Regions from separate parts of the Homo sapiens genome. Here all the other regions are linked to region 3. The links come from fine-mapping of genetic effects on gene expression. A gene starts in region 3. Each other region holds a variant in brackets. All regions are shown on one strand. Distances are between the middles of the regions. Region 1 overlaps EML6 (EMAP like 6). Region 2 has its middle 20 kb from the start of RTN4. Region 3 holds the start of RTN4 (reticulon 4). Region 4 has its middle 42 kb from the start of RTN4.

What was found.
Region 1: its variant is fine-mapped to the expression of RTN4 in tibial nerve (GTEx, PIP above 0.99). The same link has a PIP of 0.9 or more in esophagus muscle, fibroblasts, subcutaneous fat and sun-exposed skin.
Region 2: its variant is fine-mapped to the expression of RTN4 in monocytes (Quach 2016, PIP 0.95).
Region 4: its variant is fine-mapped to the expression of RTN4 in whole blood (TOPMed, PIP above 0.99).

What each region holds. Positions count from the first base shown.
Region 1 is chr2:54,969,324-54,972,008 of GRCh38, reverse strand. It overlaps EML6 (EMAP like 6), which reads right to left. Exons shown (of 42, transcript NM_001039753.4): 42 at 1-1,938. The coding sequence ends at 1,914. Among named protein-coding and RNA genes, the nearest start is that of RTN4, 80 kb to the left of the region's middle. The variant T/A (reference allele first, on the strand shown) is at 1,263.
Region 2 is chr2:55,069,229-55,071,913 of GRCh38, reverse strand. It overlaps a transcript of RTN4 not described here. Among named protein-coding and RNA genes, the nearest start is that of RTN4, 20 kb to the right of the region's middle. The variant A/CAACAACAAA (reference allele first, on the strand shown) is at 1,166.
Region 3 is chr2:55,048,993-55,051,677 of GRCh38, reverse strand. RTN4 (reticulon 4) reads left to right here and starts at 1,227. Exons shown (of 9, transcript NM_020532.5): 1 at 1,227-1,933. The coding sequence starts at 1,378. RefSeq lists enhancers at 1,397-1,446, 1,409-2,221 and silencers at 1,587-1,646, 1,787-1,906.
Region 4 is chr2:55,090,723-55,093,407 of GRCh38, reverse strand. It overlaps a transcript of RTN4 not described here. Among named protein-coding and RNA genes, the nearest start is that of RTN4, 42 kb to the right of the region's middle. The variant A/G (reference allele first, on the strand shown) is at 1,588.

The sequences.
Region 1 (2,685 bases), 80 kb after region 3:
ATTTTATTTGACACATAAAATGTTTAAGTGATGTGTTTTATACTTTGAAAATAAATTCATGCACCAATGTTTTAACTCACATATATCATACAGTGCAGGATTTATGAACATACATAAAATCAAAATCATACCATATAAACGTTTACAAATAAGTTTTTCATGACACACGGACACTATTGCTCTTTAAATATGGTTGTACATGTCATCATTAATCGATTCATTGTTCTTCCACATGGTTATTTCAATGCAAGATCCGATCAGCATGAAGAGTCTAGTACAAGATAGGCAGACATGGTTATCACTCTGCATCACCAGTCACATGGTTACAGAAAACAGAATTGGGACTGCATAGGGACTCTACTGCGGGCCCAACAACCTATTAGTGGATTGATGTAAGGCATTAGTAAATTGGCATATAAAAATAGCTTAATGAGTGATCTAATCCATTTAGAATGCTGAAGCACTTCTGTGGTAAATGTTAGTCTATTCTACAATTGAAAATGCCTCATTTTACCTTTTCTCTAAACTGACAAATGCAAGTAGCCAGTAACTGTAGGTCTAGAATTTTCGTTCACTGACCAGAAGGACTAATAGGCGTCTATGTGCTCAGAACCACCAGTCCCGCACCAACTCTCCTTTCAGTGAGCACTGTCAGCCACATCCTGTAGTCACTGGTCAGCTACATGGAAAGTGTGACTGAGGGGCTTACGGATGGCTTCTGGTAAAGATTGTCCAAGTCATATTCCGTCATACAACCAACTCCAAGGAACTCTAACTCACTTTATAATTTTGATTTACCAGCTATTCCTTGGGTTTACAATTTGTTCTGCAGATAATTTTTTTATAATCTGGACTTGACCTATATAGTTCGCCTGAAGCAATCAAATGAAGTCACCTCAACTCCACTCAGGGTGGTACACCAAGGTGCAGCCTTGGGTTACCCTCATTTATCTTAAGATTTAACGAGATAAGTCAGCTCATTCTCATAGACCTTCCTGAGCCTTTTTCCCCTTCCATTTTGTAGTAGAAGTTTGTTTAACTTGAATTCTATTTTGGATTTTGTGGGTTTGGCATGAAACACAATGAAAACCCATAATTCTACCCTGTCCCGAACTTCAATTCCTTTGCTGCTCACCTTCCCATAAGCAGGTAACCGATGTCTTTCATTTAGGAAGCCTTGGCGTGAACACAGGACAAGGGTGACACACTGAATCTGCTAAGGGTCCTGCAGCCCTCCTCAGCTTTGAGGTTTTAGCACCATA[T/A]GGAGAAAGGAGAAATTGGTGGGAGGTGAGACAGCAGCCCACACAACTGGAAACTTTCAAAGGCACTTAATGGATATAAAACTCTGCAAATGAAACATTTAAAAATTAAGTTTCTCAACTCCTTTATACATGGCTCATTTGGTTTTGAAAGCTAAACTGGAGAACAGAGGCTAGCGATATTTCTAGTACTTCGGTGCATCTAACTTAGGCTGTCTTGTTCAACTTATTTGTAAAAATGAACATTCTTGAAGTATATAGAAACAATAGCAAAACATCTTTGTAAAAGTTTTGATGCAAATTAAAAGCTACATATTGGTTAGGGTAACCGAGGCTTCAAAATTCGTCAGCGGGCTACATTATCAGATAGGATTTCTTTGTCAATGTAGTTAGTATGTATACTGTTTAGTCTCAGGAACAGAGGCAAGCAGTCTTTAACATTTTAAAACTTGACCTTCCTTCGTGGCATCACGGTTTTGGAGAGTCCAGATTATGGGAGCAGTTGTGTAACTTCTGCAGCGTTTTGAGCTTGTGCATCCGGGGCAGCATGGTAGGCATTTCCCAACGGCTGGTGGCAAGGAGGCACCTCAGCATGGCCTCTGCAGTTGCTGGCTGGTAGCAGCAGCAGCAATAACATAAGAGGCTTCTGGCATTTTACAGACATCGCCACACAAATACACTGAAAAGGCAGATCAAACAGTCATTTTGCATAGCTGGACATCATACTTGTGTCAAGTGGCAAAAAACAATCTTGCCAAGTGCTCAAAAGTCAAGCTCGGGTGATGTATTGAACATTTTGACTTCAAAAGGTAAACCAGGGATCTTGCCACCAAATTAAGATCTATTGCTTTTCTTAAAAGGTCTGTTTTTTTCAGTTGAGTTCTGTTTGGTTCTTTCAGCAGTTTGAATGTCTGTGCTAAATGTTGGTCCGTGAGGACTTCTGGCACTTTGATATCACACTCTCTCCTGTTACTATTGAAAAGGTTTATCACCTCCACTTGAGTCAGAGAGCCCTTTTGAGTGTTTAGCACAGAACCAGGGATCACAGCATGCTCCCATGCCTACAAAGGCCTGCAAGCCCTGCACGGTTAAGGCCACTTCTTTTTTATATTAAAACAAGTCTGTATCCCCTGCATTGGGGTGACCAATTCATTTACGTCTTTTACTCCTAGCTTGTTCACAATTGGGTTGGTGCTGCTTTGAAGGGGTGTTAGCACTTCACAGGGAGCTGCTGGCGGTACTATCTCAAGGGCTATAAGTGCCAGAAGTAGCCAGCACAGCAGGCTGGAGATGGGGGCTCCCAGGCAGGCCATGAGAAATACACAGTGCTTTTGAGTGGGAAGTGGGTTGAGATTCTTTATAGGTGCCTTTCTTACAACCTAACTCAGACCACCAGGAAGTATCAGAAGGCCTGTATTTCATCTTT
Region 2 (2,685 bases), 20 kb before region 3:
CTTTGGGGTTCCAAAATTCTCAAGCTAACCCAGTCATTATAACATCTTTACTTTACAAAGTAATTTGAACTGCTCTCTCCTAAACTGTTTATGATCTTTACAACTTTTTCCCTCCCTTCACTAATAAATCCATAGAATCTCTAAAAAGATTCAGGGGTTTTGTTTGTGGTTTTTTGACAACCACAGGCACTGCGGCAGTGCTGGGGACATCAGTGAAGGGTATGGGCTATGGTTTGCTAAAAAGGGGTAATCTATAAATTGACAGTCTGAAGTCAGTGATCGCCTGCAGCATTTTTCATAGAACCAGATCACAAATATTCTCTGCATTAGCAGAAGTAAATGACTGGCTTTTTTTTTTTTTTTTTTTTTTGATGGCAAATGGTGCCTCTCCTATACCAGCAACACAAATTCTATGTAGTTAGAAGTAGAAAAGGGCATCAAACACACAGGGTTGTTTGTTAATGTGTTTCCAGTTTCTGAAAAGACCGTAATGACTTAGTTATGTCTGGTTACATTTTCTTTTAACTTTCAAAGCACTTTTCCATCTCCTTTCGTTGTTTCCTTATAATCACCCGTACAGAAGGTAGGGAAGGTACTATTGCTCCCATTTGAGAAATGATGAAACTGAGACACAAAGAGTTAATTGCAAGGTAGTAATAGGACCCAGGATGACTGACTGTGCCAGACATTTTGTCTTGTAGATCACAAGCAAGAGACCCCCTGGTGGCCAGTAAATTATTATTGTAGAAGCTAAGCATAATTTGAAACCATTTCCAGGAACTTAGACTGGGCTTGGAGTTTCAAAGTTCCATTAAAAAAAAAAAAAGAAGAAAAAAAAGGCAGGGCGAGGTGGCTCACGCCTGTAATCCCAGCACTTTGGGAGGCCGAGGTGGGAAGATCACGAGGTCAGGAGATTGAGACCATCCTGGCTAACACAGTGAAACCCCATCTCTAATAAAAATACAAAAAATTAGCCAGGCGTGGTGGTGGGCACCTGTAGTCCCAGCTACTCGGGAGGCTGAGGCAGGAGAATGGCGTGAACCCGGGAGACAGAGCTTGCAGTGAGCCGAGATCGCACCACTGTACTCCAGCCTGGGCAAGAGAGAGAGACTCTGTCAAAAAAAACGAAAAACAAAAAAACAAACAACAACAACAACAACAACAA[A/CAACAACAAA]AATCAAAACAGCTGTTTGTCCTTGATAGGAGTGGAGATTTTTATATGCTGAGATAATAATAGACCGGTGATTTTTAACCAAAGTCAATTTTGCTCCCCACCCCTAATCTCATCCCTCTTCCCAAAGGCATTTTTGGTTATTGCAAATGGGAGGGAGTATTTTATTTTTCTTTCTTTCTTTCTTTTTTTTTTTTTTTTTTTTTGAGACAGAGTCTTGCTCAGTCACCCAGGCTGGAGTGCAATGGCATGATCATAGCTCACTACAGCCTTGATTTCTTGGGCCCAAGTGATCCTCTGGCCTCAGCCTGCTGAGTAGCTGGGACTACAAGTGTGAGCCACCATGCCTGGTTAATATTTTAACATTTTTAGTAGAGACAAGATCTCGCTATGTTGAACTCCTGAGCTCACGGGATCCTTCTGCCTTAGCTTCCCAAAGTGCTGGAATTACAGGTGCGAGCCACTGTGCCTGGCCTTTTGTTTGGGGGGGTGGGGAGGATTTGGGGAAGGGTGTATTACTGGAGTATTACTGGCATCTAGTGAGTAGCAGCTGGTGATCCCGCTAAACATCCTAGAATGCACAAGACAGCCCCCATAACAAAGACTATCCAGCTCATAGTTTTAATTGTTCTGAGGTTGAGGAACCCCTGCTTTAGACTGTCTCTTTGCCTTGGTTAATGGTGCTTGGCATGTTATCAGTTTGCCCTATGATTAGTCTCTGCCATCGAAACCACTGGGCAAGACATTTTAAAAGGGAGTTCAATAATGTGCCATCTTTTACCCCACATTTGCTGCTTTCTCTTAATTCTTCATCCCTTCTCTCAATCCTTTCCCCAGTTGTCATCATCCCTACTTCTCCAGCCAGCATTTGGCTTAATTCATGTACCTGTGTTTCTCTCTTTTTCCTCTTTGACATCAAATTGACATGGTTCAGTTCCACTGTGGTCTCTTTTTCTTGCTCTCTTAGAGAAAACACTGAACTTCGTGGACATTGGGTGATGGGTGGAGGTGCAGGCCCTGCAGGTGCCCCCAGGAATGTCGGTTGGGCCTCTCTGGGAGACTGCTTATCTGCCAGCTTCTATTATTAATTTTGGAAGAATGCTTGGGTGGAGGAGGCAGAGGCCTTCCCTTAGTGCCTTAGAGGAAACTCACAGGTGAATTTTCCTAGAAGTTAACTCTACTTCTGAAAGGAGGGTGAACAATTATACTCCATACTCACCTACAAGTTGTAACTCTTATTTGTGTAATAGCAATAAACCCTGTGGATAGTAGTCTCTGGCCATGCAGATATTTTCAGTTTGTTTTTAGACAATGGCAGAGTTGAATTTACTAAGAGGAACACTTAGAGTATTAGAGGGGCTTTCTGATTTTTTTGAGGGGGGCGGTTACAGAGGACCAGGTAATTTTGGATTTTATTTTCCAGAAGAATGCTGACATGGATGAGAAGCATTACTTTTATCTCACTGATAAAGGTTAGAACTTTCATACTCTAAGCAATTGATTTCTTGAAGACGACTGGACTA
Region 3 (2,685 bases):
CAGTAGCCACAAGTAGCCAGTACCTGTCAGGTACAGCACAGATTTAGACTTTGAGCAACTTGAAAGCAGGTTATCCTCTTCTCTCCAGGGCCTCCAGAGTAGGCATGCAGTGAATATTTTTGAAAGGTAAATCAGAAAGATAAAAGGATCCTGATTCTTACAAAGATGTTCTGCAACTACTCTCTTTAAACTCTCCAGCCTCATAAAAAGTGGAATGGGGATCATGCTTATTCCTGCATATCAAACCAATGACTATGGGGCTTCCTGACTCCCAGAAAGCCTGAATCATCCGAAATGTTGACTCATGAACCTAAGGTGACTGAAATGTAACGTGAACCAAATTAGCTTTCCAAGGCATCTTTGTATTTCCACTTTCCTGTCTCCCCGCTGCCTCTCTCTTTGGGTGACTCACTCTCTTACCATGTAAGAGTCCAGCAGGCAAGGCCCCAAACTCTCTTTGGAAGAAGAGCAGACTTTCAAATGGTCGGCCCCAGATCCCTAGTTAATTCAGCACAGCTGTTTTCCTCCCAATTTCGGGGGCTGCGGTTTAGACTGAGTGAGCCTAACTGTCAAAAAACAATTTTTTTCTTATTTTAGGGTGGTAGTAGTAGTGATGTAGTTTGGAACTTTGAGTGAACAAATAATCTTTTATTTCAAAAATCTTTAAAAATCCTTAGGGCCCACTTCCCAGTCCCGCTAATACCTTTCTCCAGTCGGGTTTCTTCCTTTCCCGGGAGGAAAGTTTCCACTCTCAGTTCCCCCAGGATAACGCCCTTCCGGTGGCGCGCCAGAAACCGCGCCGACCCCTCCCAGCCAGCAGCCCGCCCCCTTTCCCAGTGCTCTAACGACATACGGACGCCAGCTGCGGGCAAGGCCAAGACCCCACCCCAACTCACGGTTACCCAAAGTGGGGGTGGAGCTCCCAGCTCTCAGCCCCGCCCATTGAACGCAATCCCAGCCGGTAAGAGAGAGGAAGTGCCGTAGTCCCCACCCACTTTCATCTCCTTCCCTTTCTGTTGGCCCGGCTGGTCGCCTATCTTCTCGATCCTGTAGCCGATTGGCTCTCTCCCTCCCGCGCCAGTCCCTGCCCTCCCCTGGGGAGGGTGAGTCACGCCAAACTGGGCGGAGAGTCCGCTGGCCTCACTCCTAGCTCATCTGGGCGGCGGCGGCAAGTGGGGACAGGGCGGGTGGCGCATCACCGGCGCGGAGGCAGGAGGAGCAGTCTCATTGTTCCGGGAGCCGTCACCACAGTAGGTCCCTCGGCTCAGTCGGCCCAGCCCCTCTCAGTCCTCCCCAACCCCCACAACCGCCCGCGGCTCTGAGACGCGGCCCCGGCGGCGGCGGCAGCAGCTGCAGCATCATCTCCACCCTCCAGCCATGGAAGACCTGGACCAGTCTCCTCTGGTCTCGTCCTCGGACAGCCCACCCCGGCCGCAGCCCGCGTTCAAGTACCAGTTCGTGAGGGAGCCCGAGGACGAGGAGGAAGAAGAGGAGGAGGAAGAGGAGGACGAGGACGAAGACCTGGAGGAGCTGGAGGTGCTGGAGAGGAAGCCCGCCGCCGGGCTGTCCGCGGCCCCAGTGCCCACCGCCCCTGCCGCCGGCGCGCCCCTGATGGACTTCGGAAATGACTTCGTGCCGCCGGCGCCCCGGGGACCCCTGCCGGCCGCTCCCCCCGTCGCCCCGGAGCGGCAGCCGTCTTGGGACCCGAGCCCGGTGTCGTCGACCGTGCCCGCGCCATCCCCGCTGTCTGCTGCCGCAGTCTCGCCCTCCAAGCTCCCTGAGGACGACGAGCCTCCGGCCCGGCCTCCCCCTCCTCCCCCGGCCAGCGTGAGCCCCCAGGCAGAGCCCGTGTGGACCCCGCCAGCCCCGGCTCCCGCCGCGCCCCCCTCCACCCCGGCCGCGCCCAAGCGCAGGGGCTCCTCGGGCTCAGTGGGTGAGTGCCGCGACCTCTCGCTTCGCGCCGCCCCTCGCGCCCCTCCCTCTTTTGTGTGCAGCCCCAGATGCTTTGGGCTGGTCCCTCCTCTCCGCCCCGAGGGCGCTTTGTCTGCGGACTTCGGGGCGATGGCGCCCCGTCTGGTTGGAAGCGCGGGGAGAAGGGTGGGGCGGCCCTTGGAGCCCGGGTTTGTTCTTATTGTCCGTCTTGGTTTCGGGGAACACGTGCACCGCTCCCGGCTCCCACTTTCACCCTGTGTGATGCCCAGCGTACGGATTCTCGGAAGTTAGGCACCCACCCGTAGTAGGAGCCGGGTATATACCCGAGAGCCAGGGTTGTGGATTTATCGGGTTGGTTGGGCTTCGAGGTGAGGAAGGAAAGGCCTTGGCACCCAGATATTTTTAGGAGGTGCTTTTGTCTACCCGTCTGGGTTGCTCCTTTGGAAAAGGTGCAGTTTTGCTGCGGGTCTGTTGGCCTGCATTCTGCCCCGGGCTCCCTCCTCACCTCCTGGCTGGCGTGGGTGGCCCCTTTGCGCTTCCCCTCCCCCTCCTCCTGTGCTCGTGGGGAGCTGGCCGAGTGGAAAACGTCCACATTGACCCAACCGCAGTGAAGGGAGAGCGCCTCCAGTGGTGTGGTGCGTGGAGAAATGGGAAGGAGAGAGTTCTGGTAAAGTCCTGCCACCGCCCAGCTCCCCGGGGTGTGATGTGGACTGCTCCCCACCAGCTAAACCGAGCCAGGGAAAGGGGATCTAG
Region 4 (2,685 bases), 42 kb before region 3:
ATAAAATAAATTAAATATATATAGAATAAATTATTTAAGTATAAAATACACACATATGTTTATGTGTTTGTAAATAAAACAACATACAGGTATACATGCATTTAGCCATTTAGAGTTCAACAGCATTTCAGTTGTATTTTTTAGCATTTCAACCACAAAAACTGTTGAACTAGGCACTTACAGGTATTACTAAGAGCAAATACAAATTCTATATTAATGTGTATGACATTTCTTCATTAAAGAGCTGTCACTATAATTGGCTGGCCCACGAATGTGCATCATAAGCTATCAAAACACAGACATTTTCAAGCAGCTCTTAGAACAATGCAAGGCTCTTATCTTCTGATATTTTACACACGTACACACACACATAGACACACACACAATGGTTATTTTTATTAGTGGTCAGAACTCAGTAAGCAACACTGAATAGATAAGTGAAAAAGTGAATTTTTAAAATCAAACAAAAAAGTTTTACCCATTGGGAAAATGTCTGTGAAGAAGAAGAAAATGCGAAGGGGCAAAACTGGCTACTTTGAAAGAATAAAACTTCACCCCATGTGAATTTTCCTGGGGCCGCTTCTAGCTCTAGTGTGAGGCCTCTGCTTTCTCCAGGGGAGCCCCCAAACTGAAATTGGAAAAGGGCATCTACATATATATGTGGTCAGTTTTACCTGGCTTACAGGAAGGAGTTAAATGACAAAACTCTAATGAGTGAGGCTTTTACCAGGTGCCACAATTGGGTGTGGCCTCTGACAGAGGGCAAGCAGGAAACAAGTGAAACTCAGGTATACTCATTCCACAAGTTTGTGTTGAGCACTTTTTTCTGCCAGGTAGTGTTCTAGGAGCTGGAGATAAAAAATCTCTTCCTTCGGGCCGGGCACGGTGGCTCACGCCTGTAATCCCAGCACTTTAGGAGGCCGAGGTGGGCAGATCACCTGAGGTTGGGAGTTTGAGACCAGGCTGACAACATGGAGAAACCCTGTCTCTACTAAAAATACAAAATTAGCCAGGGGTGGTGGTGAATGCCTGTAATCCCAGCTACTAGGGAGGCTGAGGCAGGAGAATTGCTTGAACCCAGGAGGTGGAGGTTACGGTGAGCTGAGATCATGCCATTACACTCCAGCCTGGGCAACAAGAGGGAAACTCCAACTCGAAAAAAAAAAAAAGAAAAGAAAAAAAAATCTCTCCCTTCATTGAGCTTCCTTTTTTTTTTTTAAGTCATGGTCTCACTCTGTCACCCAGGCTGGAGTGCAGTGGTGCCATCTCAGCTCACTGCAGCCTCAAACTCCTGGACTCAAGCAATCTTCCCACCTCAACCTCCCAGGTAGCTGAGACTACAGGCATGTGCCACCAAGCCTGGCATGGTTTGGCTGTGTCCCCACCCAAATCTCAACTTGAATTGTGTCTCCCAGAATTCCCACATGTTGTGGGAGGGACCCAGGGGGAGGTAATTGAATCATGGGGGCCAGTCTTGCCTGTGCTGTTCTCGTGATAGTGAGTAAGTCTCACGAGAGCTGATGGATTTATCAGGGGTTTCCGCTTTTGCATCTTTTTTATTTTTCTCTTGCCGCTGCCATGTAAGAA[A/G]TGCCTTTTACCTCCTGCCATGATTCTGAGGCCTCCCCAGCCATGTGGAACTGTAAGTCCAACTAAACCTCTTTTTCTTCCTAGTTTTGGGTATGTCTTTATCAGCAGCATGAAAACAGACTAATACACTGGCTAATTAAAAAAAGTTTTCTTTTTGGAGAGACAGTATCCTGCTATATTGCCCAGGCAGGTCCCAAACTCCTGGGCTCAAGCAATCCTCCTGCCTCGGCCTCCCACAGTACTGGGATTCTAGGTACAAGCTACTGCAGCTGGCCTGAGCTTACATTCTAATGAGGACAGGAAGATGAAAAATTTGTAATCAAGCAACAAGTAAGTGTTACAGGAAAATAAGATAAAGGGTAGAGAGTGAGCAGGGGCTAGAAGTTTAGGGATTGGGGCAGACAGGTGAAAATTTAAGGGAAAAGCATTCCAGGCAGAAAAATAGCATGTACGGAGGCTCTGAGGCAAGAAGCTTTATGTGTATGTGGGAAGAAAGGGCCCAGTGTGGATGACACCCTATGAATGGAGGAAGAAAGAGGTCAGAGTGGTAAACACGGCCCAATCACGTGGGGCCCCCTAGGCCACAGAGAGGAATTTGGATTGCAATGGGAAGCCATGAATGATTGTAAATGGTGGAGCCATACTGTCCGATTTATACACAGACACACCCCTTTCTGGCTGCTACCACCAGGTAGTGAAAAGGCCACTGGTGGCCAGAGGAAAGACAGGGCAACTGGTTAGGGAGGTTTTTGCTCTAGCCAGTTGAGCAAAACTGGGAGTTCAGTTGAGGACTGGTGGCTGAGACTTCTTGGGTGGAATCAATGGAGATGTGCAGAGAAGTTGAAAAATGTCAACTTGGGATGTGTCTTGGAGGAGGGACTGACAAGGCCTGCTGATCTCCTGGATAGAGAGAATGAGAGAAAGCAGAACCAAGGATGACTCGTAGATTTGGGGCTTGAGCAACTGAGTGGATGTGGGGCTGGTAACTGAGGTGGAAAAGACTGAGGGAGAAGCATGTTTAGGGGGTGGAGCCGAGTTTGGTTTTTGGCCATTTTAAATGGGAGTTACTTATTAGATATCTAAGAGGAGAAATTGTAT